Linked DNA regions of Homo sapiens: all the other regions are linked to region 3. The links come from fine-mapping of genetic effects on plasma protein levels. A gene starts in region 3. Each other region holds a variant in brackets. All regions are shown on one strand. Distances are between the middles of the regions.

Evidence for each region. PIP is the posterior inclusion probability: the model's chance that the variant is causal. Protein levels are from antibody-based Olink assays in UK Biobank. Linkage for the fine-mapping came from a reference panel and not from the study's own genotypes, which makes the PIPs less certain.
Region 1: its variant is fine-mapped to the plasma level of the C1QL2 protein (UK Biobank, PIP above 0.99).
Region 2: its variant is fine-mapped to the plasma level of the C1QL2 protein (UK Biobank, PIP above 0.99).
Region 4: its variant is fine-mapped to the plasma level of the C1QL2 protein (UK Biobank, PIP above 0.99).

What each region holds. Positions count from the first base shown.
Region 1 is chr2:119,141,520-119,149,622 of GRCh38, reverse strand. No RefSeq gene overlaps it. Among named protein-coding and RNA genes, the nearest start is that of C1QL2, 13 kb to the left of the region's middle. The variant T/C (reference allele first, on the strand shown) is at 4,576.
Region 2 is chr2:118,981,244-118,989,346 of GRCh38, reverse strand. It overlaps MARCO (macrophage receptor with collagenous structure), which reads right to left. Exons shown (of 17, transcript NM_006770.4): 9 at 7,840-7,938; 10 at 7,691-7,726; 11 at 7,093-7,191; 12 at 6,937-6,999. Among named protein-coding and RNA genes, the nearest start is that of MARCO, 43 kb to the right of the region's middle. RefSeq lists an enhancer at 1-360. The variant G/A (reference allele first, on the strand shown) is at 4,339.
Region 3 is chr2:119,154,984-119,163,086 of GRCh38, reverse strand. C1QL2 (complement C1q like 2) reads left to right here and starts at 4,336. Exons shown (of 2, transcript NM_182528.4): 1 at 4,336-5,501; 2 at 6,106-6,844. The coding sequence starts at 4,818. The coding sequence ends at 6,285. RefSeq lists an enhancer at 5,158-5,968.
Region 4 is chr2:118,990,249-118,998,351 of GRCh38, reverse strand. It overlaps MARCO (macrophage receptor with collagenous structure), which reads right to left. Exons shown (of 17, transcript NM_006770.4): 13 at 7,719-7,763; 14 at 6,477-6,575; 15 at 5,876-5,920; 16 at 5,052-5,228; 17 at 3,692-3,965. The coding sequence ends at 3,832. It overlaps LOC124906072 (a long non-coding RNA gene), which reads left to right and starts at 5,034. Exons shown (of 3, transcript XR_007087213.1): 1 at 5,034-5,281; 2 at 7,186-7,264; 3 at 7,866-8,103. RefSeq lists an enhancer at 4,756-5,955. The variant T/C (reference allele first, on the strand shown) is at 3,710.

The sequences.
Region 1 (8,103 bases), 13 kb after region 3:
TATCTGTGTTATCTTGCTTAATCTCAACAATGGAGTAAAGTGAGATGCAGCAAGTTAAATATCTCAACAGTTCTCTCGGTCACGCTGTGAGAGGATCAAAACTGAGGCACAGGGAGGGCTAGTGATTTGCTGAAGGTCACACAGCAAAGGAGAGCCTGAAGATTGAAGCCCAGGTCTATCTGACGTCAAAGGTCCTGCTTTTAGTAATCCAATTCTCTGTCTTCCCTACCAGCCTGCTGGTTATCTGAGGCTTGTCATAGAACCTCTCTGAGCCATGGTTTCCTCTTCTTCTTTTTGTAGAGATGAAATCTTGCTATGTTGCCTAAGCTGGCCTTGAACTCCTAGCCTTGAGCAATCCTCCCACCTTGGTCTCCTAAGTTGTTGGGATTACAGGCACGAACAACTGCACCTGGTACAGGGTTTCCTTTTCTGTAAAATGCTGCCTATTCTACAAGACTAATGTGAAGAGTGAATGAGCTAATGGATGTCAGCGATGTCACCGGGAAGTGTTCCATAAAAGTTAGTTGTCATCAGCACTTAAACATTTATTTTGAAAGAGTCACTTTGCCAACTACACCACCTGGCTACTTGTCCAAGCTACTGATGGTTGGAGGAACTCAACTGTGGTCTTTGAACTTGGTGGATTCAAATCCACCTTTACCATGAACTAGCTCCGCAATAATTTAACAGATTATTTAACTTGCTGAACCTCTCTTTTCCCCATCTATAAAATGGGACCAGTCCTCCTACCACATGGGTAATTGGGAGAATTAATGAGATGTCGTAACAGTATGGGATACAGAATAAGTGCTTGAGACCTGGGGTTAGTATGTGGTGGTGGTATTGAGATAATGATTAGGGATCTCTTCATTTTCTCCTGAGCCGATACATTTCAGGAATCATCAAACTGAGACTTCTTGGAGTGAGAAAGGGCAGGATTTTAGTGTCAGTAGCTGGCATTTATGAGCATGCCTGTGTGTTAGGAGACACCAAGGGCATTTTTCAAACATGTCTACAGTCCTTTCAGTAACCCTGTGAGGTGAAGATGAGTGATAATTGTACCCATTTCACAGATGAGGAAGCGAGAGGCCGTTTTCAATGGTGGTTATATATGTCACAGCCAGAATTCAACCCAGTGCCCTTTCCACTGTTCATGCCTTGGTCTCTCACCTACTTTAGCACTGGCCCTCGCAGGTCCCAGTACGTGCTGGGAATGCTTGTGCAACTTAAGACTGATGACTGTGCAGATCCTGTTGGGGCTCCCTTGTTAAATCCCAGGCTAATAAGCCCCTGCGTAATTGGGCCTGGAGCTGTGACTAAGTCTCAGGGCTCTGCCACATGAATATGCAAACTCCCATTGACGGCCCAACTCCATCGCAGCCTGATTTCAAATTGGCATACACAGCCCAGTGGTTCAGGGCCTCTTGCTATGCATAGTAAGAATGCCTGCTAATCCCACTAAAGCTCTGAGGTCAGGGTTGGGTAGGGGGTGTGCTCAGCAGAGCCCATTCAGGAGGGTACATTGAGAGCATGCAGTCCAAGCTGCGGCCCTCTTTCAAGACCTGCCCTGCCTCCACGGGATCAATATGGAGCTTACAAGCCTTGGAAGGCTGGTTTCTGTTTTCTTTCCCAGCTCCATGAGGCATACGTGGGAAACCCAGATGCTGCTCAAGGGCATGGAGTCCAGTGGGAGCTGTCTGGTGGCCTGCAGATTGTGAAAGCCAGCTTTGCCACATGTTTCACATAAAACCTGATTACTGGGTGTCCACTGTGTGCCCAGCACCGTGGTGGGGGGAATGGTTGTCACTCTCTTTCAGTCTGGTTGGTAACAAGAATAGTAATTGTCAATGATAACAACAATAGTACTCACTCCTGTTTGTCAGGTACCTACTGAGAGGTGCCTGTGACTTGCATGCCCTCATTTAAAACTCCCTGAAGTCCTGCAAAATGGGTGTTATTCTTCCCATCTCACAGGCGAGGGCCCCGAGACTTGAGAAGTTAACTCAGCTGTGCTCCAGCTCCACAGCTAAGAGGTGGTGGAGGCTGAGTTGCAGCCCAGGTTTGTGTGGCCATAAAGCCCTTCCTTTTTGCACGACAGAGGTGCTGCAGTGTGTCTTGATCCACTCTACGGATACTTGGGGAAGGGCTGACCCGATGGCTGATCTGGGCACAGGGAACCTCTATGTGGAAATGAGAGGTCCTGAGAAGGGCTGGGGTGGTCAGGAGGGCTTCCAGGAGGTGGTGGCCCATCAGTTGGGGTTTGTCATGTAAGTGTGGTCATTAAGCTCCTTAGGGAGCTGGCAATGAGGCTGAGCAGAAAAAACTCACACACTTTGGAAATCCCTTGGTTCCATATTCATTCTCCAAACAATTATTAAGTGCCTACATCTACACTGAACGCAGTGCCGGGCCCTGGGGTACAAAATGTCCTGAGATAAGGCCCAGTCCCACATGAACTCTGTAAAAGACAGGAGCCAGACCAGGGCCCAGGGCAGGGGATATCCCACCCAGAACAGGGAGCCGACATCACTCCAGAGAGCCACTGAGCCCAGGGTAAAGCCAGGAGAGGAGAAACAAAGCGGTGCAGATGCCTCCAGCTCTTTGGAGGGGACCAGGAGGAGGCCATTCTGGCAGGGAGGGAAACACAATCACAGTCCTGGAGGTGAGCTTGCCTCGGGGAAGGGTTTTCTGGAGCCTTTCTCTCTACACGTGTGTTGGGCTGTGTGCATTGGTGTGCATATGGCATGCACATACATGGAGGGAGATGTGACTTATGTGTGTGACAGGAGGGATGTATTGTGGGAGGGATGTTTGTGTGTGGGATGGAGTGTGTGTGTGTGTGTGTGGTGTGCTGTACCTATGGGGACACAACAGTGTCAATTGCAATGGTTGTGTATCTGGCTCAGAACACTCTTGGGGGTGTTTGAGCCCTTCTTGCCTCTCAGTAGAAAGATAGAAGAGCTTTATGCCATTGATTGGTTCCGCTTTTCCCAACTCCCTGCCTCCAACACACATAATAAACTTCATTGCTGACTCTCTTTGAAGTGTGTTTGGAGTTTGTATTTGGGGTGGGGTCACATGGGGATAGGAGGTGTCCAGGGCTGAGTGTTGAATGATGGGGGAGGGAGGGACTGGGGAGAAGAAACATCTCAGGGCAGGAGCTGGAAGTTAGAAGGGTCCCTGAGTTGCCTAAAAGACCCCAAATAATGGTGTTCTGGAATCACAGATGCAGATAACTGCACATGCAGCAGCAACAACTTAACATTGTAATACCACTCGATTCTTTCTGAAGGGCATTGGCAGCCATTCATTCCCTCATTTGTAGTGACATGCCAGCCCCCACACTCACCAGCATGTGGAATTACAGATAGCTCCTGTGCTCCTTCCCAGTGGATTTCTGCAAGGACTGTGGTCACTGGACATACAATTATAACATCCCCATCTCCCCTCAGTAGAGGAGACTGAGGCTAAGACAAATGAAGTGACCAGTCCAGGGTCTCATGGCTGGTTAACAACTCTACTGAGAATAGCCTCCCAGTCAGTCTTCTCTGCTTCTCAGGGCTTCTGATAGTTCAAAGTGAGGGGTCTGAACATGGTAAACATGATGGGAGACAGAGCAAGCATATAGATTCCCACCTCTCTGTCAGGCAGTTAGAGCAGATCACTTTCCAGGGCTGTATCCCAGCCCTGGAAATGCTATCTCCCATAGCATCCTGGATACATTAGCTAGAGCATCTACTCATCCATCCATCTATCCATCTATTCATCTATCTATCCATCCATCTATCTATCCATCCATCCATCCATCCATCCATACATACATACATACATACATACATACACCTACTCATCCATCATCCATGTAGTCAGTGCACAGCTGTATGCTAACCCTATGTAGGTGCTGGGAATGAGATGCTCTCTATCCAAAAAATCTCCCAGTCCGGCGGCAGAGCTTCTAGAAGCCACTGCCCATCCCTTCTTCGCTTTCTCCAAACAGCCACTTTCTAAGAGAGGCAGGCATAGGGCTCTCGCCTGGCTCCCCGTGAGTGAGCTAGCCCAGCAGCTAGCATGACAGCCTCTGACAGGCCCAGGTGACTGGCATCAGAGAACAAGAAGCTCCCTAGTGGTGTGGCAGAAATCCCGAGTCAAGCTCAAGAGCTTTCCTACAAATACATGAGGGGCCTGGCTTCTCTCTCGAGGTGCTTCCTGCAACTCCTGCAGGATGGCAGGTCTGGCACTGCGCATGCCTCATGTCCTCATGCCTTGAGTTGGTGGCACCATGTGCCATGTGTGGTGTTTGCCTGAGCCCTTGCTTGGCCCCTGGCCACAAGTTGCACCCTTTGCTTGGCTGGCCACCCTGTGGGCTGTACCTTGCCTATGTACCCCCATTTTTCGAGGGACACTTCACAGCTTCTGCACTATAGTCATCACCCATGTTGGGAGGTCTGGATGTAGAAGGAGGAACTTGCATCACAGCAGAGGGCCTGTGTCTTACTCTGTTTCTGCTGCTCAGTAACTCATGATGGGGGCTTCTTGCGGAAATGAACAAGCAAGGCCACTGCCCAGCCTGGTGCA[T/C]GTGAGGAGGCTGGCAGAGAGGAGTAGGTGCTTTCCACGCCGAGCTGCAGGACCGGAGGGCCAGCCGTGGGAGGTTGCCTGTGGGATTTGTGTTTGTGAAGCTGGCTAACTAGTCATTACTGCCAGCTACCTTCTTTCATATCCCTGGACTAATGGGGCTGCCAAGTTAGGGACCCCATGGTCCAAACCCTCAAACAGCAAGTAATTGTTTCCACTGTGTGAGAAGCCAGTGGTTAATGGGGGTTTGCCAGCAGCTGCAGGGGACCAGGGGCTCAGTTAGGGTTTTCCTGATTAACTCTCCCGTGTTCCCATTCCGGGAGGGATGGGGCAAAGGAAGTCCGATTGCCATCAAATCATAGTCATCACTCTTAGCTGCTTGCTTAGTAAACCTCCATGTCTCCCGGCACTTACACAATCACCTCCAAGTCCCAAACCTGGTGGACTGGCCTTTCATGATCTGGCCTTGTTTCTTCCCTGCCCACTGTCTCCCTCCATCCACTTCCGCAGGTAAATGGAGATTCTTTTCTTCCCACAAGGAGGTTCCTTCTAGTCTCTATGCAGAGCCTGGACTAGGGTAAGATGCAGAATTTAAGAGAGTGCAAAAAAACTCTCCAATTAAGAGAAATAATTTTAATGCAATATTTAAAACATCAAGATTATTGTAACCCATGACAGAACAAAATATCAATATTTAATATATTTTTAAAATTTCAGTAGCTTTGGGGGTACAAGTGGATTTTGGTTGCACAGATGAATTGTATAGGAGTGGAGTCTGAGATTTGCATGCACCCATCACCCTAGTAGTATACATTGTACCCCATATGTAGATTTTTTATCCTCTCTCCATCCCTCGCTCCCCCTTCTGAGTCTCCAATGTCAGTTATACGTATGTCTGTATGCCTTTGCGCACCCATAGCTTAGCTCCCACTTATAGGTGAGAACAGGAGGCATTTAGTTTTCCATTCCTGGGTTACTTCAGGGAATATCAATGTTTAAATAACAATGGCATCAGTCAGGATCCTTTAGAGAGGATTCTTTTTCTTTTTCTGATTTTTTTAAACCACTTTATTGAGTTGTGATTCTTCTCATTTTATCACAGACGATCACCAGGTTTTGAGAGAAAAAGGAAGAAAGAGGGACTAGGAAGCACTAAGAATGTGTTCAAGGAATGGAATAATTGACTGTATTAATCTTGATAAGAGTAACTCTCCTGTTACTAAACATCCATTGTGTATTGATCATTTACTCAGTGCCGGGCACCATGTTACAGAGCTTACGCTCATGATCTCATTTTCTCCTGCAGTGGTAGGTGTGATTATGCTTGTCTCATTGATTTGGAATCTGAAGAACAGAAAGGTTGAGTAGTTTGCCCAGAGACACACAGCTCTGCCAGGTGGAGCTGGAATGGAACCTAGGTCTGACTGTAAGGCCCATGCTCCTCCAAGATATTTTATGGCTGCCCCTGAGGGACACTTCTGTTCTTACCTTTCTCCCTATCCCAATAACGATGCAGACTAGAACAATAAGAAACACACACTGGGTTCTTGCTATGTGGCAGGAACTTTTCCAGGTGCTTTATATGTGTTATGTATCTCATTTAATCCTCCCAACCACCACAAAATGATAGAAATTATCCCCATTTTGTATATGAGAAAACTGAGACACGAAAAGGTTAAGTAACTCGGTCAAGGTCCCAGCAATAGTAAGTGGGAGAACGAAGACACCCGGGTTTCAGTTGAGCTTGTGTCCTCTGCGCTGAGCGTGGGATGTTCCAGGCAGTGAGCTGGACCAGGCCTATCCATTGCCCTCGTGCCTGGGGTGGGTGAGACATTACCAATCCCCCCGCCCTGGCCCAGGCCCCGGGGCCTCACACAGTTCCCAGGTGGGAACCCAAGCCAGCGCCTCTCCACTCACTCTTGGACTGGCACTTCAAACAGTGGCCCTTTCCGCCGTGCCCACTGTCAACGTCGTGGAAACCTGCCAGGCGGACAATGAAGGCATTCAGGGGCTGTTATTTATTTATTTCTCAATAAAGAAACTTCATGAATAGATGGATATTTATTCACCTAATTCGCTTTTGCAAATGCAGTGTCCTTCAAAGAATGATTTGTTTGCTGAGTGGGGCTGAGGTGGGAGGTTAAAAATAGCTCCCGGCAGTACCGTATTTCTCAGTAAATCAGTGTTGATAATTTAATAATAAAATTAGTCTTACATCAGGTACCAGATAACGCTCCTTTGACATGCAAATCAAATTAACTTCCTACCTAATGTGGGCCATTTGTGAGGCTGCAAAATCACTAGTCTCCGTTTTTGGGGCATACATTTAGAGCCTTTCTTAGGTGGGTCAATAAAAGTGCCTCCAAAATGCTTATCTCACTAATGTGATCATTTGTAATATTCACTAAGTTCAAAATGTAGGCAACTGGAAGTTCTCTCACTTCAAAGCTGTCACATATAGCAGGTTGGAGAAGACACCAAACACACACCTGTCCAGTTTAGGGAGATGGCTGTAAATCGCTTTGAGTTTGGGGGCAGAAAGGCTGTCTCCTCCAGTATGTCTTTTATTTCTTCTTAATAAAACTTTCATGGCCATCTACAGTGTGCCAGGCCCTGTAGTAAGTTCTGGGGAAGCAGAGATGATTTAGATACTGCGTTTAAGGAGCTCATGCATGGTCTGGTGGAGGGACAGTCGCATCAAGGGGCATCATGGTGTGAAGACAAAGGGACATGCACATACAAGATCTAGGGAAGCATAGCAGAAGAAAGGGCCAACATCATTGTGAAGGAGAGAACACACAATCCAGGAAGGCTTGTTCCCAAAAGTGAAATCTATACTGGGTTTTGTAGGATAAATAGGAGTCCTCTGGGTAATTGAGTAGCAGTTAGGGGCACAGGACAGGGCATTTCAGGCAAAAGAAATGGTATATACAAAGGTGTGGAGGCATAAGACTTAGTACCATGCAGAGAAGTTACATTTTTTTTTTTGTAGCCAAAGACTAGCAAGTGGGAGACTGGAAAGTCCAGTGGGGGCCATATGACCTTGTGTGACCTGTGAGAGAGCTGAGATGTTCATCTGAAGGGATGGGGAACCACCGAAGGGCTGGAAGCAGGGGAGAGGCGAGGCTGGATGTCCTTGCTGAAAGATCTTCAGGACATGGTATGGAGCATCCGTGGAGGAGGGCAGGATGGTTCCCTTCCCCGCTAAGGAATGAGCACCACGTTTCCTACAGGGCAAGTGGGATTCTGTGTGAGTGCTGCAGGACACAGGGGCCAAGAAACAAACAGGAACCAAAACACACTGAGGGGAGGAACTGGGGAGGAGGAGCTGCCCCAGAAAGAGCTGACAGGGAAGTGGGAGCCTCCTACCTGGGCCCACTGGGTGGGAACTTCAGGCCTCACTCACCCATAGGTATTCAACAAGCCCCAGTATATGTTTGACATATGCAGGTTACGAGCCTTTCCCACAGGGACCATGTGATTTTAACCAGCCCTCTGAGATTGGCAGGGTGGGCCCCATAATTCCCATTT
Region 2 (8,103 bases), 170 kb after region 3:
ACTGAGGTTGGGATAGGTTTTTGTAAGAGCTGGAGGTGCCTTAGAGGTCAGCCCCTGGCAGACAGGCCCCAGCTTACACAGGGCCATTTGTGCACACACCTGTCCCTCTGAATAGAATGCCTCACTGCTTTGGTTCACCTGGAGAACTCACATTTAGCTTGTAAACTCTGCAAAGATGTCAGATGTCACCACCTGTGAAGCCTTCTCTCCCTCGCCCAAGACAAGATATCCTTTCTCCCAAGGCAGTAAAGCAAAGTGGTTCCAAAGTCTGACAGCCCGGACTTGAGTCCACTTCTGTCTTATACTAACTTTGTGACCTTGAGCCAGGTGTCCCTGCTCTGAGCCTCAGTTTCCTTCTCTGAGTCTCCTTGTTTGCCTCCTGAGGCAGTTGTAAGGCTGAAATGAAATCGTGTGTATCAAGCGCTGAGCCCGGTGCCCAGCCAGTGCTGAATAAATGATGTAACAGGACCCACAGTGTCCTGTGTCCCCTCCAGGTGGGGAGCACCTCAGGCACTGAGGTTGAGTCCACACATGAGCACCAGGATTGCTGCACAGCTAGCACCCAGAAAATGTCTGCTATTGACCTGAAGGGCTTAGCTGAGATTGCCCAGGAGAAGCGACAGATGTTTCCCTTCTGCTTACCTGCATCTGAACAGCATACGCCAAGATGGGTTGGGCGAAAGATCACATTCTGTATGTCTATGATGGTGATGAAGTAGAAAACAGTCCACATCCAGGGAGGTCACTATGTCTTGGGGTCCCTGAACCCTACCTCTAGGGACACGCTCTTAAGGTAGAGATTTCTGCAACATGGCACCCTCTGGGATGCAGATAGAAGGGGCCAAGAGTCTGGATGTGGACTGTTTCCTGCTTCATCACCATCATAGACATATAGATTGTGGTCTTTCTCCCCACCAGTCTTGACATACGCTGTTCACATGCAGGTAAGTAGAAGGGGCCTCAAAACACTGTGACCACCCTTTATTGTGACCACCTAAAGAGATGCACCCCTCCAACTGTCCCCTAAAGCACCGAGCAGCAAACACCCTCTAAAGACAGGAATCATAGGGAAGCCCCTGTTCACCAGGTCCATAGCCCCAAGCCTGACTCTCCCTCTTCATTTCCCACACTCTCCCTTCCTAGCTCCTCACCTCCAGGGGACTCAGCATTTTCTGCTGCCTGCATCACGCCAGGCACTGTGCCAGGGGCTTTACATCCATGACCTTGTTTGATCTTTCAGCCACCCTCCAAGGCAGTGTGATTTCCCTCCTTTACAGAGGAGAAAGTACACACTCAGAGATGCTAGGTGAGTAATTCAAGGTCACATAAGAGTGAATGGGGGAAGTTGGGGCTGTCACCCAGGCCCAGCCTCCCAATGTTCCCTGAAGGCACCTTTGTTCCACTAGTACTAGGCTCACTCCTATCTGGAGTTTCACTTGGTCTACGCACTTGGTTCCCAAGACACCTCCAGCCTCCCTGAGGCCATTTCTTCCCCCTAAAAGAGGAGTAGTCAAACTAGAGAATACATCAGAATCATCTGGGTGCATCTTGTTAGTAAACAACTTGCTAGGTCCCACCGGAGTCACTGATTTAGTGGGACTGGAGTGGGAATCCAAGAATCCACAGTACTAACAAGTTCCCAGGTGATGCTAATGCTGCAAGTCTCAGGACCACATTTTGAGTAACACTGCCCTAAACAACTCTCACTCATTCTTGAGCGACCAGCTTACAGCCCACCTCCTACGAGCAGCCTTCCTTGTCTCTTTAGGAGCTCACAGCCCCTCTCGCATCTGAATCCTCCCAGACCCACAGTTCCTATAGCAGAGGTTGGACCTTGATGAAATGCCTTCTGATATGTATTTAATGGGTATTGGAAATTAGAATTGAGGTTTGTATCATTTCTCTCCAAGCCTCGCTGGACTCTAAGAGAACACTGGCTGAGTGGTTGTCCATGGACTAATCGATGGAGGAACTAGTAATTACTTCACTATAAATCAAGGCAGCATCCTGATAGGATCAGCTCCTGCAGAGTAGAGGGAGAAATGGCTAAAAAATAGGTTCTAGAGCTGCATGTTGTAAAACTACGCTGGAGAGCAAATAAATGCTGGATTTTTCTTCTTAACCATAAGCAAGCTGGCTTTCCCCAAGTATCACAAGCTTATCAAGCTGAAAGGGTTCCAAATATTTACTTGCAAAGTGTTTTTACAGAAATAATATTCTCCCAAGAAATGTGTGTTAAGTTAGAAAACATATGCCTTCCAGTTGTTTAGTGTTGAGCTGGTGTTCTGACTAAAGTCTTCAATTGTTCCTGCTCCCAGGGAAGCTGCCTATTTCAAACCCAGAGTGCTGTGAAACTGTCAGGGACCTGGTGTTCTTCTATACTGCTTGCACGCCACAGAAAAGGAAACAGGCTCAGCAACGTCAAGTAGCTGAGCCTGTGGTCACTCAGCTAGTCAGGGGTAAGTTCAAGCTGAGGCTCAGATCTCCTGATTCTGAGTGAAATGGAGAAATCTCCAATACATTAAGAAAACTTTCTTTCTTTCCCTTTCTTTTCTTTTCTCTCACACTCTTTCTTTTCTTTCTTTCTTCTTTCTTTCTCTTTCTTTCTCTTTCTTTCTTTCTTTTCTTTCTTTCTTTCTTTCTTTCTTTCTTTCTTTCTTTCTTTCTTTCTTTCCTTCCTTCCTTCCTTCCTTCTTTCTTTCTTTCTTTCTTTCTTTCTTTCTTTCTTTCTTTCTTTCTTTCTTTCTTTCTTTCTTTCTTCTTTCCTTCCCTCCCTCCCTCCCTCCCTTCCTTCCTTCCTCTCTCTCTCTTTCTTTCTTTCTTCTTTTTGACAGGGTCTCACTCTGTTGCTCAGGCTGGAGTGCAGTGGTGCAATCATAGCTCACTGCAGGCTCAAATTCTTTGGCTCAAGTGATCCTTCTCCTCCTCCTTCAGCCACCTGAGTAGCTGAGACTACAGGTACATGCCACTATGCCCAGCTAATTTTTTTATGTTTTGTAGAGAGGGGGACATTGCTGTCTTGCCCCGTCTGGGGAAACTTTCCTAAATACCATGCCAACTTGGAGGCTAGATGCAACCTGGCAAATTTAGGATTGAGCTAATAACTGACAAATCGACCTTGTGGTAAGAAGTGAGATGAAGGATAAGGGACTCAAAATTGGGGTATGTGTAGACTTCTGCAAAGCTCTCTCAGAAACTTAGAGGAAAATGAGGAAGAGTTTTATAAATGACAATTTAGTGATTTGACTTAGTAGAATTTAATAAATTATTGGACTATCTCAGAACTTAGATATAAGGAATGGAATTAACTAAGAAATTATATTCATGACATAGGGCTCAATTGCTATTATGGATGATCTTTTTGGCTTATCTTTAAAGTAAAACATCTTCAAATACAGATGAGAAAATGGATTTTGAGTTATTTGCACTTCGGTTTTGCCCCAAGAGGAAAATAAAAGGGCATGGAAAATTCACATTGCTATAGTTTAGACATAAAGGCCATTGAGATAAAGAATTTCCAATCAGATTGGTGTTTTGGAGTTTAAATGTTTTGGCTGCTTCTAATGTTATTTCATGAGGTGTAAATGGTAAAAAGAGAAATGTCATGATTACAAGCCGAAGTGGAGTCCTTCCTTATTTCTAAATAAATATTATTTCAAAATAGCTAAGACATGTAGAGCTAAAATTGGATTATTCTTCTGCAATCTTTGAAAGTGAAAATGTTAGAAATACTAAGTGATGGAGGCTGGACAGGGTCTGTTTCTAGTAGGTAAAAAAAGTGACCCTGAGAGAAGGTTCTGCAGGGTATGGTGCCTTGCTTAATAAACTGTGGAGGTTATCTTCCCACCAGAATGGGAAGAATTTCCTCTTTGTCTTCTTTAATATGAGCTGGCTCCTCTCTCAAGAGATGCAAACAAGAGGAAGCATTTCACCTGAATGGGGTAGAGTGTGGTCAGTGGCTGTGGAGGAGGTAGAAAGGCTTGGTGACCAAGCCAGGATTTACCCATTTATGGAGGAGTGGGAGGTGTGGCTGGGGTGGGGACAGGGTGAAGGTAACCGATTTCTCTCAAATCATACACTCTACGTTCTTCCATAAAACCGATTCTGGAAAAGCACAACTCTGGAATCAGACTTTGGGATTCACTTCTGAATTCAGTTCATGCTCCCTGTGACACTGTGAGCAAAGGGTTTACTCTCTCTGAGCCTTTGCTTCCTTGTTTGTAAAGTAGGAATGATAAGTTCAGTGTGATCATGGGAGTCAAGACCCAGGCACAGTGCCTGGCCCAGAGGCACTGATAATAATGAACAGACCGCTCATGTTTTTAAAATAATTAATGC[G/A]CAGTAATGAAACCTAGCTGTCACCTAGGTCAAGCCAACGCACTGTAATTTTTCTGTTTTCATCTAAAGTGGCTAGATATTCTCTTGAGAGATTAACGATTTTATTTACAAAATGGGAAATACATCAGTTTGGAAACCTGGCTTGATATATCAACACTGGCCAAGCACTGCAGTGGCTTTAGTTTGGGGAATACCGACATCCTGACATTGACAAGTATACACTGTGCTCCATGATGGGGAGATTGGGCTCCCACCCTCTGCCTGCCCCTGCTTCTCCCACTTCAGAAGTTGTCAAATCTAATCTCTCCGGAAGTTTATTAGCCTATGACTCCAGGATGATCTACATACCCAGCTAAATTAGCCAGATTATGGTCCTATTGGAATTCCCCTCTGAGATGTCCATGTGGACTGTCAGCTACTAAATCAAGGAAAACATTTGGACTCGGGTGGGCAACCTGCACAGTTTTAGATAAACGGGAATTATCACAAGCCCCAAATTGAAATGCACTTCCTCATGTTTACTTGGTCAGCCAGAATTAAGGGTAACCCCTAGAATTTGCTGGCTGGTACTCACCACTAGGCCTAATTATTGGAGAACTCCATAAGGGTATTCAGCAGATATAAAAGGTCTCGATGAGGATGAAATTAAAATGATCCCCAAGCTATGGGCCAAAAGTCTTTTGCTAAAATGGGTGTGGGGTCCTGGTTAAATAACTAAGAACCATGATAGGGCCTGAAAGCTTCATGTTTCTTCCCAGGAATGGAACAAGCTGCTACCTTCTGCTCTGATCCTTTCTGAACTGGGATGAAGGGAGGAGGTGTCACTCATCAGCACACCCTGATTGTGGGGCTGGGGAGGGAGAACTCATGATAGACTGTACTAATAAGATCCCAAGCTTTGTCTTGTACTGGCCTAGATTTGAACCTGGCTGCATCTCTTAATGGCTGTTTGACCGTAAAGTTGTGCTACAAAGAGTGCTTGTCCCACTGGGTGTCAAGAAGATGCTCATTAGCAGGAGCTGCTTTTGTTCTGCAAATCCTCCCAGGATGCAAAGGGCAGGGCAGGATTCCCTACCCTCAGACTGTGGAAGACACAAGCTTGGGGCTTGGGGAGTAAGCACAATGCTCCTGTGGGTAAAATCATGTTTTACCTCCAATACTCTTGGTTAGTTGAGAACCGTTAGTCTGGCAGTGGGGGTGGGGGCAGAGGGTGACTACTATTTACAACCGAGAGATGAAAGCAATCATCTCCATGAAATCACACAGAAGGCTCAGGGGCAAGAGAGCATCAGGTCTCATAGTCAGATGGACTCTGAGACTGGGGACCAGAGAAGATGGAATTATAAGATCAGAATGGACAGTGAACAAGTCAGGAACATCTGACGACTATACCCAGATGGAAACTTTCCTATGGTGAGACCCAGCTAGTGGCCTTCAGGTGGCATCCACATGGGATCAGGTAGCAGGGATCCTCCCAAACACACTGTCCATAAAAAACACAATTGCTCTGGGGCTCGACAGATTACAAGGACAGAGAGGGTGTAAAACTGCGCTTGCCATGGCTCCCGACAGCTTTCAAAGAAACACAAAAGCTCAAGCCCAGAGCCCAAGGTTTGCCAGGAGGTGGTGATGAATGAATCAATCAATTGATTAGAGCTGTGGAGGGCCAGGTCCCAGTGTAGGTCTCTAGCACAGCACGGGGGTGAGGGCATCCAGGTTGTCTGACACAAGCGTGACCTTCTCAGGCAGAGGACAGGGGTGGAGGCAGACTGTCTACAGATGTCCTTGGCAGACATGCAGCTTTACATCACAACCCTGCCTTCCCCATTGCCCCTCCTGCCCGCTCTTGGCTTTCCAATGTGCAACAGTTCTCCACAGAAATGCCCAATCAGAGTGTGCCCACATCATCTGGCAACAGTCTCTGTTCACTGCAATACCCTGCATGTCAGGGCAGAAAGGCAGGAATTGATCTTATGCATTGTGATAGTGGTCTGGACTTTCTAGACCAAGCAAGCACACTGTGACTGGACCAAAACGGCTTATAAAGTAGACTATATTGGTACAATGGTTTACGACCTAGACTAAATAGACATGATGGTATATAACCTAGACTAACCTAGACTCTGTTGGCATTATGGTATAAACTAGTCTTTGGCTAGTGTGGGTCAGTGCTCCCAGGCTGCCCCCCTAGGAAAATGTGGAAGAAGAGTTTTCTGGACCCTCCAGCCTGAATCTAGACTCTTGGACCCCCTCTTAGGGGCCCCAATGAAGGGTTAGCAGGAGACAGCAGAAACGTACAGCTGGGAGGCAGACCAGGGAGATGGTATGGGCAAGGTGCTTTGCTCTCCTCCGTGATGCTGGAGGTTTGGTCATGGCATTCAAGGACTTTCATGAGCTCTGAGAAGAGAAAGAACAGCCCTAGGCCCTTGGGCTTAAGGGGTCCTGGCAGGGGCAACTGCCCCCATAACCAGGAACCTCAGAGGCCAAGGCACAGAAGACCCTCTGCCTCCTCCGTGGGCCTAAGAAGAAGCAGTTTTTCTCTCCATCCATCCTGCCACCCAGCAAGCCCACCTACTCACCCACTGCACCCTCTGTTACCTGTGTCCCCTTTGCTTCCTTTCAGGCCTGTGGCTCCTGGACTCCCGGGGCTCCCTGGAAGTCCTGGACAACAGACACCACAGAGAGCATAAGGGCTGGACTAGGCAGGTTTTCACACATCACTCCCTGTGCCCACCATAGGACCCAGGACCTCACCTGCTCGCCCAGGGGAGCCAGCACTGCCAGGCTCACCCTTGGCACCTGGGTGTCCCACTGCACCAGGAGGGCCCGGAACACCCTGCAGTCCAGGTTGTCCTGAAAGGAAAGTAGTGACTGCCAGGCTGTGGTGGTTGGCAGAGGGCCCAGATACCCCAACCCCCAGTGCTTCTGTTTTCAGCAGTGAGACATGTACCTCTTAACACCTTACAGTCCTCTTGGCAGCTTTAACACCTCTCTTTAGAAGCCATGAGCTAGCCCTCTTAGTAGGAGGAAAATTATTCTCAGCAACTTACTAATCTTTTCCATCTGCAGGGCCTGGGACTTATGGACTTACTAGGAGCTCTGGGTGTGACTGTCCAACTCCACCCCCTGGGTGGCAAAGTGGGGTAAAGTCTAGAGAGAAACATCAGTGAGGCCTGCCCCCACCGCCCACTGGCTGCTCTGTTCCTCTTGGCCAGGGCCAGATGTCTAAAAAACCCCAGGTGTTCTGGGTGAATACTACAATGAAGCAAAAGATGGTGGTGTCTGGTCCCCAGCTTCACTCTGCCAGGGACAGTCGTAGCTGGGATGATGCCCAGATTCCTGTAGTTCTTACCTTGATCTCCTTTAGCTCCAGGAAAACCAGCCAAACCTAAGATGAAAAAGAACTTTTAGGAATTTTTTTTTCCTTTGGCTCAGCCAGCCAGAAAAAAAAAAAAAAGGAAATACCTAGAGGTCAGTGGATGTGACCACGTGCCCTCTTACCTGGTGGGCCTGGCCTCCCGAAGTCACCTTTACTCCCCTGGGCTCCAGGAGGCCCCATGACCCCTGCATCTCCTTTCATGCCCCTGTCCCCTTTGCTTCCTGAAAAACCAAAAAGTCTTGGTTAGTTGTGGGAGGAACTCCAATCAGGCCACCATGTCCTCCTCTGACACTTCCCATTCCACTGAAATCCCAAACCCTAAACTCCTTGAGCTCCTACTTGGTGCCCGCGAGTGGAAGATATGACCGCTGCCCTCAAGGAGTGCA
Region 3 (8,103 bases):
ATGGATCACATCACTTCCCTGCTTAAACTCCTTCAGCAGTTCTCAATTACACACAGGAGACAATTCACCTCTTTCAACATGGGCTCCAAGGCCTTGGGTGATCTCCCTCCTGTCTATCTCCCTGACACATCTCCTGCTGTCCTTCCCTTTGGGGATGCAGGCAGAAGATTGGCCAATGTATTCCACATGATGTCTCTAAAGAGCTTACACTCTAATTGGGACACAGGTCTGATTTAGAGACAGCATGTCAATAAACACCCATGCTGCAGCTGTTCAGGTACAAACTCATGTGCTACGGGTAGAAAGAAATGGGGGAGCTGAGGGTGTCTTGTAGAACAGCTAGAGTAGAAGGAACCAAGACTGTTGTGTACCACTGTGTACTCAGCACGTGGCATGATGGCTGGCATATGACAGGGGTCAATAAACACATATTGAGCAAATGAATGACATACACAAAAGATGAAGATGAATGAATGATACGATTCCTGCCCTACTGGAGCCCATAGCCAGGTGGGGGAGGCTAACTAATAAAGAAATGCATGATGGTAAGACATAGGATGGCAGGGTACATTCAACGTACTCTAAAGCGTACATGGGTAGGAACTATCAACTCAGCTTAGAGAAGGGTCACGGAAGACTTCAGACAAGGAAGTGACACTTAGCTGAGACTGAAAGGATAATTAGAGAGGAGTCCAGATGAGATGCAGGAGACAGGCCATGGTGCAGGTAGATGAAGCATGGGGCCCACTGCTGGTGGAGGCCACTAAAGAACCGGACATGACAGTGTGGAACCAAGCATCAAACTATGTGTCACAGAGCACAGGGCTCTATGAAAGGATAAGATAGAGAGCACTGGTTGGCACATAGTAGGTTGTCAGTGTATGTTGGCAGAAGGAATGCCTGCTGGATTACTAAAGGCAATTTAGAACAGATTTGAGTGGGTCTCGAAATGTAAAAACCACAGTCTAAATGGAAGGCAATATGTTAATATAGGTCATAATTAGTATTGAAGAGAAGATAGTCACCAATGATATGGATCGCTCAGGAGGAGCAGAAGCCAGGTGGATAAACAGGTATGTCAGCTGGGTGCAGTAGCTCACGCCTGTAATCTCAGCAATTTGGGAGGCTGAGGCAGGTGGATTGCTTGAGGCCAGGAGTTCGAGACCAGCCTGGCCAACATGCCAAAACCCCACCTCTACTAAAAATACAAAAATTAACCGGGCATGGTGGCGGGCACCTGTAATCCCAGCTACTTAGGAAGCTGAGGCAGGAGAATTGCTTGAACCTGGGAGGGAGAGGTTGCAGTAACCCAAGATTGTACCATTGCACTGCAGCCTGGGCGACAGAGTGAGACTCTGTCTCAAAAAAAAAAAAAAAAAAAAGAAAAAAAAATAGGTATGTTCAACACTCCAGCAGGCCATGCCTTCTGGCCCTGCCATGATGGGTGGGAGGAAGGAGAAGCAAGGGGAAAGACACCTCTTGACTTATTTGGCTGCTATGTGGAGGCTGCCTGGGCTCTGCCTGCCCTGGAGCCTGCTGCCCCTGCCTCCTGGTGGAGGGCTGGTCTTGAGAGGCGCTCCCAGGAATGCTGATCCCCAGGGAAGGTAGCTTTGCTTGTGGTCTGCCAAGGTGAAAGCCTGGGTCTCAAACATCTGACCCTCCTTGCTTCATCTTTGCCCAGATACTGCAAGGACAAAATCACTGGGACTTGGCAGTCTCCAGCAGTCTGAAAGGCTGGGGAATTCAAACGGAGTGAGTGTCTGCCTGGAAAATGTTTGTCCAGGTGGAACTGGTGACTGGGAACAAACACTCTGGGTAGTTTTGAAAGACAAAAAGACAGAGCAGGGCAGGCTTGGGGAATGTGGGAGGCATGGGACATCCCCCTTCTGCGCTCTGGAGAAGGACAAAGGATGTGAATTATCTTTGAGCTTCTCTTTTTTTAAAACCCTAACCCTCCCCATGCCACCCTGCATATTGCCTTCATGTCGCATCCTAGTGGTCATAACCATGGCAGGGGAGGTTGAAAGCATCAATAGCTAATAAAAATAGCTAAGCTTCTACTGAGCTAGCTATTGTTCTAAAGCCTTTACATTAATTGGCTCGTTCAGTCTTCTCAATAACTTAGAGGTAGGTTCTTTTTCCATTCCCATTCTACACATGGAGATCCGAGCTCAGAGAGATGAAGCAACTTGCTCAAGGTCACACAGACAGGAAGTCTCAGACCCAGGATTGGAAGTAGGCCATGTGGCTCCTGAAATCACGTGCTCTTGGGATGACTCTGAGGCAGAGAGTGGAGAAAGACTCCCAAGTCTGAGGAAACCAGTGAAGACTGTGGCCAAGAAGTAGCTGTTGAAGCTGTGTTCACTGACAGGTTCAGATAGCCCCTGATCTGGGTGCCGGGAGGATCCTGGCTCTGTCATGTGGGTAAAATGCACTTGGCAAACACCCTACACTTGCAAAACCTTTTTTTTTTCCTCATTGGTGCGGTGGGAAAATGATCACTAATCCACAGTAACATGAGGAATGAATGAAGGAGCACGTGCAAAGTGCCTGATGCATACGTAGTAGGTGCCAATAAATGTGCTCCTTCTCTCCTTGGTAAAGTTGGCTTCCGGCTAGGCTCAGTCATCCTTTCCACAAATATATGTGGAGAGAACAGGCTAGAGCAACGAGGTTGGGAGTGGGGAAATGACCCAGGGTGATCAGAGGACAAAAATAGATTTTAATTAACCCGTAAGAACCTAGTGCAGGACAAATGAGAGTTAGCTTCAAAGCAATAGCCTTAGGTGGGTGCACTGTTGTTCCAGAGATGCTGATGCTACACCAAACACTGACACCAGCCCTTAGATTCTCCCCCCAGGACAGGCCTGGTGTGATTCCCATGTTGGGGGTGCTAGGGCAGGAGGCGGCCTTTTAAGGAAACTGAGTCTCAGGGACAGGAACCACCTGGCAAAATCACACAGCTACTCAGGGCAAGAGCAGAAGCTGGGGCTTTGATTTCTCCGCTGGAAGTCTCTCCCACACCGGCGGGCCTCTCATCCTTCCTTAGCCTCACATGCTACATTGGAGATAGACTATTCTGCTCTCATCTGAGGCCATGGTTTATTCAAGACTGGCTCAGAATGGCTTTGGACTATTTGGACTATTTTCTAAAATAACTAAACCCATCTCAGGAGGAGGAAGCTGGGGATGTCCAAGGGAATGTGCCCATGCATCTGCCTGGCAGTGGCCGGGCTTGGAGTAGAAGCTGAGTGCACCATGATCACTGCCAAGTGCCGGCATCAAGCATTTGGTTTCTACACCAGCTTCACGCAGAGGACAAGGGCCAGCCATTTTCTGGTGGAAGAAAAGGTCTGAGGCGAATATTCCTTTTTTTTTTTTTTTTTTTTGAGATGGACTTTTGCTTTTGTTGCCCAGGCTGGAGTGCAATGGCACGATCCCGCCTCACCGCAACCTCTGCCTCTCTGGTTCAAGCGACTCTCCTGCCTCAGCCTTCCGCGTAGCTGGGATTACGGGCATGCACCACCATGCCCAGTTAATTTTGTGTTTTTAGTACAGACGGGGTTTCATCATGTTGGTCAGGCTGGTCTCAAACTCCCAACCTCAGGTGATCTGCCCGCTTCGGCCTCCCAAAGTGTTGGGATCACAGGCGTGAGCCACTGCGCCCGGCCGCAAATATTCTTGTATTGGGAGCCTTGGGCTTTTTAGAGTCACCTCAGAGGTTAGTGGGGTGCTCTACGGGAGCCTGTTTAAGAGTCTGGAGTCCTTAGTCTAGGTTTGCGAAAGATCTTCCAGAAGCGAGATCTATTCAATTCTGAAGAAATAACTCAGGAGGTCTTTCAGAAACTCCTTCCCGCTGGACCTCACGGGACTCTCCTGGACTCGGTGGGTTGAGGTTTGATCCTCTTTGCAGGCCAGGGGATGGATTAGGTGACCCCAGAGGAGCCCTGCTGACACCTGGATTCCAGCTGCTTTCGTGGCCATGTGGGGGTGGCTGTGCGTGCCCCGCCACTGCGTGCGTGGGTGTCTGTGTGTGTTATCGGTGGGGGGCGCGTGAGTGTGGCCGCGGGTGGGTGTGTCCGATGTGCCCCGGCTTGGGACCGCGCCCGCTGCGCCCACTTGTGGCTCCTGGGAGCCGCCAGGGGGAACCGCGCCTTCACCGCCTCTGCCGAGGACGCCGCCAGATAGGAGGCTGATGACATGAGGGCTCCGTCTCCCGAGTGATGGCAGCGCGCGCTGCTTCGCCGCCTCCGCCGCTCAGCCCCGGACTCCTTACGTCAGGGTAGCGGGGTCCCCCCTCCGCGCGGGAGCCAGCGAACAGCGAGAGAGCACAGCAGAGCGCGCCGCGGAGCCGGGGCGCCCTCACTGCGCTAGGAGCCCCACTAAACCCAGCGGAGCGGAGCCTGGCGGGAGGCAGCGCCGCGGAGCCAGCGCCGGACGCCGCAAGCAGACTCCCCGGCCAGCGCAAGCACTCCCTGGCCGGCGCCGGACCCTCGGGGCGCCGGATTCGTCTTGTGTGCCCCACGTCATGCGCGCGGGCGTCCGCGGCTCTCCCGACCAGCCCCAGCGCGGTGGGCCCAGGCTCAGAGGTCCCGGCGCCTCTCGCTGAAGTAGTTGGGTAGCCGGGGCTGGGGGTCGCCACGTCGGGGGCGCGGCCAGGACCCGCGGAGCCGGTCCCCGAGCGCGGGGAGCGGGGCCGCCCGCGCCGCCCCACCATTACCTCCCCGGGCGGCAAGGAGGAGCTGGTGGCGGTCGCCTCCCGGCTGTGGCAGCGGCGGCGGCGTGCCTGCCTGGCGGCCGTCGGCGTACTCTTGGCCATGGCGCTCGGGCTGCTCATCGCCGTGCCGCTGCTGCTGCAGGCGGCGCCCCGAGGCGCCGCGCACTATGAGATGATGGGCACCTGCCGCATGATCTGCGACCCTTACACTGCCGCGCCCGGCGGGGAGCCCCCGGGTGCAAAGGCGCAGCCACCCGGACCCAGCACCGCCGCCCTGGAAGTCATGCAGGACCTCAGCGCCAACCCTCCTCCTCCTTTCATCCAGGGACCCAAGGGCGACCCGGGGCGACCGGGCAAGCCAGGGCCGCGGGGGCCCCCTGGAGAGCCGGGCCCGCCTGGACCCAGGGGCCCTCCGGGAGAGAAGGGCGACTCGGGGCGGCCCGGGCTGCCAGGGCTGCAACTGACGGCGGGCACGGCCAGCGGCGTCGGGGTGGTGGGCGGCGGGGCCGGGGTAGGTGGCGATTCCGAGGGTGAAGTGACCAGTGCGCTGAGCGCCACCTTCAGCGGCCCCAAGATCGCCTTCTATGTGGGTCTCAAGAGCCCCCACGAAGGCTATGAGGTGCTGAAGTTCGATGACGTGGTCACCAACCTCGGCAATCACTATGACCCCACCACGGGCAAGTTCAGCTGCCAGGTACGCGGCATCTACTTCTTCACCTACCACATCCTCATGCGCGGCGGCGACGGCACCAGCATGTGGGCGGACCTCTGCAAGAACGGGCAGGTCAGTGACCCCTACACTCACCGGCCCCCGTAAACCCTCGCCCGCGCCCTGAACCTCCCAGGGAACCAGCCTCCTTTCTCTCCACCCGCGGGCTACCCTGCGAGCCCCGGGAATGAACGCGCCTCGGTGCCACAGTATCTCCGCTTCCCGATGCGCCGAGGCCGCGCTCACCGGGACGTAGAGCCAAATGTTGGGCCTTGAGAGCCCAGAGACCCCCATACCTAAACTACACTCCTTGGCCACTTGCGTCCCTGCCTGCCTCTCCGTGGGCTTCTCGGAAACCTCAGTTCTTTAGTTCTCTCCAGGTCGCCCCCTTGCCCTGCAGCCTCCTTTCCTCTTGGCCCTGGCCCCTGGCTCCCACCCTTCCACTCTGGGTCAGTGTTCATGAAGCTTCCCCTCTCCCTATTTCCCAGACTCGTCGGCGCGAGGAGGAGGGGGGACCTGGAAGGAGTTGACTAAGTTGGAGAGAGAACATGGAGCTGGGGTGGGAGTGTGGACCCTGAAGCAGCAGGCGGGAGGCCCGTGAGTGGCGCGCCTGGTGTGGGCTGAGCAAAGGCGCGGGAAGAGGTGCCCCGGCTCACCTGCTCCCACCGCTTGTCCCCAGGTCCGGGCCAGCGCCATTGCACAGGACGCCGACCAGAACTACGACTACGCCAGTAACAGCGTGGTGCTGCACTTGGATTCAGGGGACGAAGTGTATGTGAAGCTGGATGGCGGGAAGGCTCACGGAGGCAATAATAACAAGTACAGCACGTTCTCGGGCTTTCTTCTGTACCCGGATTAGGGGCGCGGGGGGTGCGAGGCGGGGTGGCTGCAGGCCGCCCGGTCTCCGCCCGGGCGCGGCTCCTTGGCAAAGGCCACTCTCGATTCATAACACTTCCTGACATCTCCTTTGGAAAAGACAAATCCCTGCGTCCTCCCTGCCCCGCTCCTGGCCTCAGTGCGTCTGCGACCCACCACGCTCAGGGCTGTGCTCCTGGTCTCCATCCCCATCCCGGCAAGGGAGGAAGGGACGCCCGAGCCCTTGAGGCGGCGGCACAGACTTTGCAAACCTGATTAGACTGGACAGGCAGGGCCGGGAGCCTGCCCTCCTCAGACAGCCTCCTCCCAGTGCCTAGAAGCGGAGGGCTCCGGGCCCTGGCCAGGGAGGTAGGCCAGAGGGAGCGCGGGCTTCCTGGGGCGTCCTTCTTTGTGACCCGAAATACTTGTGCAGATTTCCCTGTCCATCAGCCAAAACCCCACCCACAGCAGAATTCCAGCAAACAGAAAATTCACCTCTCCACACCGCATTCCCTCCTGACTCAGACTCACCGCGATGCATTAAATTATGTTTTTAGACTATGCGTTCTGTTGTCTGTATGTCGACACATCCTGGACCAGGGCTCCAGATGTCCGCCTTGGCATAAAGACCTTACCTGGGCCCAGGATAGGCCCATCTATGACCTGCTCCCCAGCCGCTGCTATGTCCCTGCCACCAGAAGTTGCCGAAAAGACATGGGGTAAATGGGAGCTGCATCCCACCCTTCCCAGAAGCTCTCCCCAGGCTGCAGCCCTGAGCTGGAGAGGCCGGAGGTGGGGTTGGGAGGAGGGGAGGAGGCGGGGAAAGGCATCAGGGAGAGTTAGAGGAAAGCAGGAGAGGAATGATTGGGTCTCCAGTCTTGGGCAACTTGGGCAACTTAGTCCTCCCGGAGTTGTGGGTGGAGGTCAGAGGGGAGGGGCTTCTGGGGAAGGAAGGGGAAGAGAAGGCATCTATGGGAAATGGGAGGCGTGAGTGACACTTGCCGGGGAGGGATCTGTAGGATGTTTGGCTCCTAAAAGGAAGTGCAGAAGTCCCTAGCAGACACACACCCGCTCGAGCGGATGGTTCACTAAGCACAGGCCTGTTTACTCACAGCCGCCAGGGCCACCGCTCTCCGGAGAGCTGGTAAACTGAGGCAATTCCGCGGATCATCCAGCTTGCTGAACTTCCTCAGGGCTGTGTGTTGAGGTGGACACCATTCCTTGGGGAGGGACGCCTCTTTCCTGCGGGCTTCCCTTCCCTTATGCATGCGATTTGGGGTGCCTGCTCTGAACCTGAGTGTGTGTGTTTGGTGTCCCATCAGCATTCTACACACACACAAGTTAGGAAAACACCCCGCATGGTTTTGATTTTTTTCTTTTTACTTTTTTTTTGTTGTCAGATCACTGAGTTACAACAAAGTTATGTACAAAATAACCAGTCAGCTCCCAGCAACCTGTTAGTGCTTACTGAGGTCACTTTTACGGGTTGTGTGAAAAGAAATGTGTGAGTATACACAAAAAGGCAACCCCAGGGTGTGTGTATCTGTGTAAAGCTGGAGATTGTGTGTGTGTGTGTGTATCTCCTATGTGGATGTGATGTTGTGATTGTCCTCACGTAATCCACATTACACATGTACACACACTTATATTCATAAGTCCATGTCAGTGTGGTGTGTGACAATGTTCATGCTGCATTTCTGGCCCCAAATTGCTTTGTGCTCGACTTTAGTTCCTGGAGAATGCTGAAAGCTGTGATTCCCATTTAAAAGACAACTATACCCCCTGCCTTGAGTCCTGTTGCTGTCGCTATTCCTTTTTGCTC
Region 4 (8,103 bases), 160 kb after region 3:
TGAAGGAAATAGAGACACAAAAAGCCCTTCAAAAAATCAATGAATCCAGGAGCTGGTTTTTTGAAAAGATTAACAAAATTGATAGACTGCTAGTAAGACTAGTAAAGAAGAAAAGAGAGAAGAATCAAATAGATGCAATAAAAAGTGATAAAGGGGATATCACCACCGATCCCACAGAAATACAAACTACCATTAGAGAATACTATAAACACCTCTATACAAATAAACTAGAAAATCTAGAAGAAATGGATAAATTCCTGGACACATACACCCTCCCAAGACTAAACCAGGAAGAAGTTGAATCTCTGAATAGTCCAATAACAGGCTCTGAATTTGAGGCAATAATTAATAGCTTACCAACCAAAAAAAGTCCAGGACCAGATGGATTCACAGCTGAATTCTACCAGAGGTACAAGGAGGAGCTGGTACCATTCCTTCTGAAACTATTCCAATCAATAGAAAAAGAGGGAATCCTCCCTAACTCATTTTATGAGGCCATCGTCATCCTGATAACAAAGCCTGGCAGAGACACAACAAAAAAAGAGAATTTTAGACCAATATCCCTGATGAACATTGATGCAAAAATCCTCAGTAAAATACTGGCAAACCGAATCCAGCAGCACATCAAAAAGCTTATCCACCATGATGAAGTGGGCTTCATCCCTGGGATGCAAGGCTGGTTCAACATATGCAAATCAATTAACGTAATCCAGCATATAAACAGAACCAATGACAAAAACCACACGATTATCTCAATATCTCAATAGATGCAGAAAAGGCCTTCGACAAAATTCAAGAACCCCTCATGGTAAAAACTCTCGATAAATTAGGTATCAATGGGATGTATCTCAAAATAATAAGAGCTATCTATGACAAACCCACAGCCAATATCATACTGAATGGGCAAAAACTGGAAGCATTCCCTTTGAAAACTGGCACAAGACAGGGTTGCCCTCTCTCACCACTCCTATTCAACATAGTGTTGGAAATTCTGGCCAGGTCAATCAGGCAGGTGAAGGAAATAAAGGGTATTCAAATAGGAAAAGAGGAAGTCAAATTGTCCCTGTTTGCAGACGACATGATTGTATATCTAGAAAACCCCATTGTCTCAGCCCAAAATCTCCTTAAGCTGATAAGCAACTTCAGCAAAGTCTCAGGATAAAAAATCAATGTACAAAAATCACAAGCATTCTTATACACCAATAACAAACAAACAGAGAGCCAAATCATGAGTGAACTCCCATTCAGAATTGCTTCAAAGAGAATAAAATACCTAGGAATCCAACTTACAAGGGATGTGAAGGACCTCTTCAAGGAGAACTACAAACCACTGCTCAAGGAAATAAAAGAGGATACAAACAAATGGAAGAACATTCCATGCTCATGGTTAGGAAGAATCAATATCATGAAAATAGCCATACTGCCCAAGGTAATTTATAGATTCAATGCCATCCCCATCAAGCTACCAATGACTTTCTTCACAGAATTGGGAAAAACTACTTTAAAGTTCATGTGGAACCAAAAAAGAGCCCGCATTGTCAAGTCAATCCTAAGCCAAAAGAACAAAGTTGGAGGCATCACGCTACCTGACTTCAAACTATACTGCAAGGCTACAGTAACCAAAACAGCATGGTACTGGTACCAAAACAGAGATATAGACCAATGGAACAGAACAGAGCCCTCAGAAATAATGCTGCGTATCTACAACTATCTGATCTTTGACAAACCTGAGAAAAACAAGCAATGGGGAAAGGATTCTCTATTAATAAATTTTGCTGGGAAAACTGGCTAGCCATATGTAGAAAGCTGAAACTGGATCCCTTCTTTATACCTTATACAAAAATCAATTCAAGATGGATTAAAGACTTAAACGTTAGACCTAAAACCATAAAAACCCTAGAAGAAAACCTAGGCAATACCATTCAGGACATAGGCATGGGCAAGGACTTCATGTCTAAAACACCAAAAGCAACGGCAACAAAAGCCAAAATTGACAAATGGCATCTAATTAAACTAAAGAGCTTCTGCACAGCAAAAGAAACTACCATCATAGTGAACTGGCAAGCTACAGAATGGGAGAAAATTTCTGCAATCTAACCATCTGACAAAGGGCTAGTATCCAGAATCTACAATGAACTCAAATTTACAAGAAAAAAACAAACAACCCCATCAAAAAGTAGGTAAAGGATATGAACAGACACTTCTCAAAAGAAGACATTTATGCAGCCAAAAGACACATGAAAAAATGCTCATCATCACTGGCCATCAGAGAAATGCAAATCAAAACCACAGTGAGATACTATCTCACACCAGTTAGAATGGCGATCATTAAAAAGTCAGGAAACAACAGGTGCTGGAGAGGATGTGGAGAATTAGGAACACTTTTACACTGTTGGTGGGACTGTAAACTAGTTCAACCATTGTGGAAGTCAGTGTGGTGATTCCTCAGGGATCTAGAACTAGAAATACCATTTGACCCAGCCATCCCATTACTGGGTATATACCCAAAGGATTATAAATCATGCTGCTATAAAGACACATGCACACATATGTTTATTGTGGCATTATTCACAACAGCAAAGACTTGGAACCAACCCAAATGTGCAACAACAATAGACTGGATTAAGAAAATGTGGCACATATACACCATGGAATACTACACATCCATAAAAAAGGATGAGTTCATGTCCTTTGTAGGGACATGGATGAAGCTGGAAACCATCATTCTCAGCAAACTATTGCAAGGACAAAAAACCAAACACCACATGTCCTCACTCATATGTGGGAATTGAACAATGAGAACACATGGACACAGGAAGGGGAACATCACACACCAGGGGCTGTTGTGGGGTGGGGGGAGGGGGGAGGGATAGCATTAGGAGATATACCTAATGCTAAATGATGAGTTAATGGGTGCAGCACACCAACATGGCACATGTATACATATGTAACAAACCTGCACGTTGTGCACATGTACCCTAAAACTTAAAAAAAAAAACAAGCTGATACCTAGTGTTCTTTGTTCTTTCAGTAGATGGTTAGTGAGTTGTTGCCACAAGAAGGGACACAGGAGAGGCTCAGGAAAACGAAGCCTTTTATACCTACAGGTCCTAGAGTGACAGTCACTGCATGCCAAGAAGGGGTCACATCCTCCCCACCCTTTAAGGTCCAGTTCAAATTGTGCTTTCTTCAGAAAACTTTTTTGATTACTGTCACTCCAGATAAATATTTCCATTCTGTAAATCCCACCCATGTATGGAAGGAAAGATCAATGAGACTCTAAGACTGATTTCAGGCTTACTATGTGGTTTGCAACATGGAGAGTGGGCTTAGCCCAGCAGGCAGGGCGCTGAGAGAGAGCAAGGACCGGTTGGGCAGGTGGAGTCAGGGTGGAGCACACAGCATAGGGCATGAAGAGAGTTCATGTGTGTGCTGGAATGTTACCAGGTCACTGTCAGGGGAGGACAAAAAGGGGGATAGAGAGCTCACCATGAGAGATGTTATGTCTGAATGACTGAAGAGATGGTCAAGACTAAGGTTGACCATAGGTGACCTTCACCTTCTGCCTCACCACCTCCAACCTCTCCTTCCCCTGGCTACGGACATGAGAGAATTCAATGAAATGTTGTGGTGCATGGAGTGGGCACATCAATGGGGATGGGAGGTATGAACACAGTGACACTCAGCCACAGCCAATGATGTTGAGCTT[T/C]ATTAATGGCCCCTCTCCAGAGGCTGCTCAGTTGTCCCCAGGGAACTCCTCAGAGATCCTCTGCCTTCCCACATATGAGCCCGAGGACACCTCGGGAGCAGAGAAGTGAAAGGGTTTCCGGGTCAGACGCTGCACTCCACGCCTGCGTCCTCCTCGTGGCTGCAGTCATGATGGCCCCAGCTATTCTTGGTGCAGCTCCACAGGGTACTCTCCGTGCCCCGACACTGAACATTATCCAGCCAGATCTGCCCAGTGCCTTGATAGAGAGAAAGCAAGAGACAGAGGAAGAAGGGTAGGATTAGAGTCAAAGCAAAGAAGCCACGTGTGCGCCTGGGAGCTTCCATCTGAGGTGGACTGCCGACTTCTCACTCATTCTGGCCCATTCCGGCCCAATGTGCTGATGGCTGGCTTAGCCTGTTTTTGTTGTTGTTGTTGTTGTTGTTGTTGTTTTTATAATGACTTTGCCTCCGTTCTATTCTCTACCCTTTGACAAAAGTCTCATGCAAATCTTTAATGCTTAAACCCCACACTATTTGAAATATCTTCCTAGGCGGGTGTCCTTTAGTTTCCTCCCTGCAAATTCACTCCTGCTGCGTCCACCTGCCTCACATGCCTCTGTAATCAAGCCATCGCCCTGCTCTAAAGTGGGCATTTGCTTTGGTTTGGGTAAGGACAGGGAGCACTTGGGGCTGGGAGCAAGGGAAACTGGCCTCATGTCCTGCTGGGCCAGATCCTATAGCCAGAGAAAAGGGTTCTGCCTGGGGACTTAACTTCTTTGCTCAAGGCTTGAACTTTTGGCTGAAAGATATAGGCTGAGTCTCCAGCATCCGAAGACATTTTCCACACATTTTAGTAAGTCCCTGCTCTGATTTGCTTTCTCTTCCCTTCCCATCTTCTCTTTAAAGATGATCACAGCCAAGACTGCTTGCTGGTCAATCCAGGCTGCTGGTTCACAGACAGCTGGAGTGAACATCTGCGTTTGCCTGCCCTGAATCTTCTCTCTGTTCTTCCAGTTGCATCAACTCAGCTGTCCTTTGGAGAGCCATCTGCGGCAAACACCCTCAGCCATGTGGCATTCTGACTCCAGGGCTGGATGGACCTTGACCGAAGCCAGGCCAGCCTTCACTGTCAGCGCTGGAGAAGACAGGCCATCTTTCTGCTGGGGTTGCCAAGCTGGAAGGATGCATACCTGGAGCCCTGCACTGCAGAGCTTTTTGGTTGCTTGGACCAATATTTTTCTTTTAAAGAAAACCACACTGAGTCACTTGCCAACACCCCACCAGCGAGAGAAAGCCACATCCACACCTCTGGGGAAGAGGCCCCCGGCTGATGACTCACTTACCAGCTCCCACTTTGTACAGGGCCCTTCCTTTGGAGTAACCCAGCATGCGGCAGAAGACAATGGCATCAGAATTTTGCCACTCGTCATCGCAAATTGTCCCCCAGGTACCACTGTAGTAAACTTCAGCCCGGCCTCGGTTACTACTGCCGACAATCCTGACGGACACTGAGTTTTCACCTGGGTGAAGAAACACACATGGGAGAGGCAAGGAAGGCCCCTTGGGGCTTTGGGTAAGTGCGGGCTCTTTCTTTTCATTTTGGAGTTCTACAGTTAAGGAAAAGAAATGCCCCTGCTTGACTGTCACCAGAGCCTGGAAGATCCCACTTTACAGTGCCAACCCAACCTGGCACGCAGCCTCCATGCACCTGGGGCCTGCAGGCACAAGGCCACAGGGGCAGGTGCCCCTGTGGCTGGTTTGCAAATCGCATACACCACGTCTTGTCATGTGTTGTGGAGAGAAAAAAAGGAAAGCTGAGAAAAGAGAAGGAAGGAAGGAAAGAATGGAGAGAGAGAGGGAAAGGAAGGAGGGATGGAGAGGAAAGAAAGAAGGGAAAGGGGAGGAAGGGAGGGAGGGAGAGAGAAAAGGAAAGGAAGAAGGAGAAAGGGGGAAGGAAGGGAGAGAAGGAAGGAAGGGAGAGAGTGGCTGGGGAGAGAAACTGCTGCTCTGTGCCGTGGGCAGGCTCATTCAAGGGACTAGACCCTCAACTCCTCCCCAAAATGAGAAATTTATTTGAGAACCAAGGTCTCTTCCCCCAACACACACAATTTTCAGGTGCAGAATTGACTTTAAAGCACACATTAAAGATAATATAAATAGTGATTACCTCTTTCACCTTTTTCTCCCTTTACTCCTTGCTCCCCAGAAGATCCTGTCATGAGGAGAAAACCCACACGGTTTGAAAGAAACCCAGGCAGGACGCCTTTGCCTGCATTTGCATGAGTGGGGAGCGGGTGGAGGGTTGGGAGTGGTCAGATGCTCCGTGGGTCTCGCCTGTGGCCTGGCATTATGGGGATGGGATGTCCTGCGGGTGTCAATGACTGAGCAGGAAGAAACGGGCCTGAGCTACAGCAAGAGGGGTTGAAGTTAGATTGGTGAGGGATGCTTGGTCTGGTCAGAGATATGGAGTGGGATGGGCTCATCTCCTTCATGGAAACTGCCTAGGAGTGTTGGGTCGTGGGGCATGGCTCAAGTGCATGTTCACGCCCCTGCCTTGGATGCTAGAGCTGCGCCTAACCCGCTGCTGTGTGCTCCATGCCTAGGGCAAGCCCCAGCACAAGACTTGTCAATCAAGGAAATAAACCTCTACCCTCCTGGGTTCTGAAAATCCCCAGAACTCTTAAAACAGCGCCTTTCCTATTTTAAGGTACAGAACTGGCTGTAAAGCACAGTCCTAAGAACAAAGGAATCAGATGCAGAGGCCTTACCTTTCACTCCCTGGTCTCCCTTCTGGCCAGCTTGTCCAGGGGCTCCCTTGGGACCTGCCAGCCCTGGGCTCCCCTGTTCTCCCTTCACACCTGCAGGGCCTGGAAGGAGAGACACTGCCCTGATCAGGTGCCCTGCTTTGCCTTCCCAAGAGAGACCCAAGGGCATTACTGTTTAATAAATGAGTTATCCTTAACTGCCAGACCTCCCCCATGGCTGGGCTATCTGAATGTTCAGCCTGTCTTTGGTCCATCTGGGGGCTGCACTGATCTCTCAACTCTTAGGTAAATGCTGTCGAGAACAGGCAGGCTAAAATAGCTGGTGGTATTCCACAGATTCTTGGTCCTTCTGGAATTACATAGTTATGTGGAAGTTCTAGCCATGCTGGGAGAATTTGCTAGAATGTTTCTAAGCCTCGATGTCTCCTTTAGTGAATTGAAATAGTAACAGAGGCCGAGTACAGTGGCTTACTCCTGTAATCCCAAGCTTTGGGAGACGAAGGTGGGAGGATCACTTGATCCCGGGAGGCCAAGGCTACAGTGAGCTATCCTGTCCTGGCACCACTGCATTCGGGCCTGGGTGACACAGAGAATTTGTCTCTAAAAAAATTGAAAAAAAAAAAAACCATAAAACATAATAGAATATCTAGCTTATGAGGAAGAAAACTTGCTCAAGAAATGTGTCTGAAAAATCTCACTTTTGCACTCACAGGGGCAGGGCTCTTGAGAGGCCTAGAAACACCGTCCAGCTGGTGCCAGCTCAGTACCCAACTGAAGCACAGGCTCTGGAGGTGAGGATAAGAATAAGAAAGCCCAGTGACAGGCAGCAGGAGGCAGAGAGGAGAAGCTTGGGGGCCAAGAAGAGACAAGTGGGCCACAGCTGAGGTGGGGAAGCAGCAGCCGTGGATGGAGCAGAAGGGGCACAGCTCCATGGCGGCTGTAGAGCCTGGAGCCTCTGCCTGCACCCCCAGCTCTCCTGACATTTTTCCCCTTTGCCATCCTCAGCCCCTTTGCCATCCTCAGCCCCTGCCCCATACGCTACACCCCTCAGGATGTTGAGTTCCTGTGGTTCCCAGGTTTTGCAGCGGAGAAATCTGAGGCTTGAGTGACAGAGCCCTGGAGTCTTAACCTCCACTTTGGGAGAAGGTCACAGCTGTGCATTCAATGTCAACAAGACCTGCCCTCTGAGAAGGCAGGCCTTCCCCGTCATCACTCCGAGGGATGAAGATGCAGCCTGCCCTTTACCTGGAACTCCTGATTCTCCTTTTCTTCCTTGCTGTCCTTGAAGTCCTAAGATCAAAACAAAAAAGGGGGGGGGGAGGAGATAATAAAACTTAGGTATTAGACATTTTTAATCTTAGACAACCTCTACCTTTTGTCTGATTAATGCAGATGGAAAGATACATTGGTTCTCCACGATTGTTTAAAGCCTCTTCAGCAGATCATGAAAAGAGACAGTCTGCAGATGAATGAGAACAGGTGTGTTGGGGGTGAAACGGCAAAGTACTGGATGAAAGCCTGGATTAGACAGACCCCAGATGCACCACTGGCCTTCCCTGCCCCCCGGTAACCTGACCTGGCATCTAAATCCAATCCCATTCCCTGCTGTTGCATTTATATTGGAAGAGAA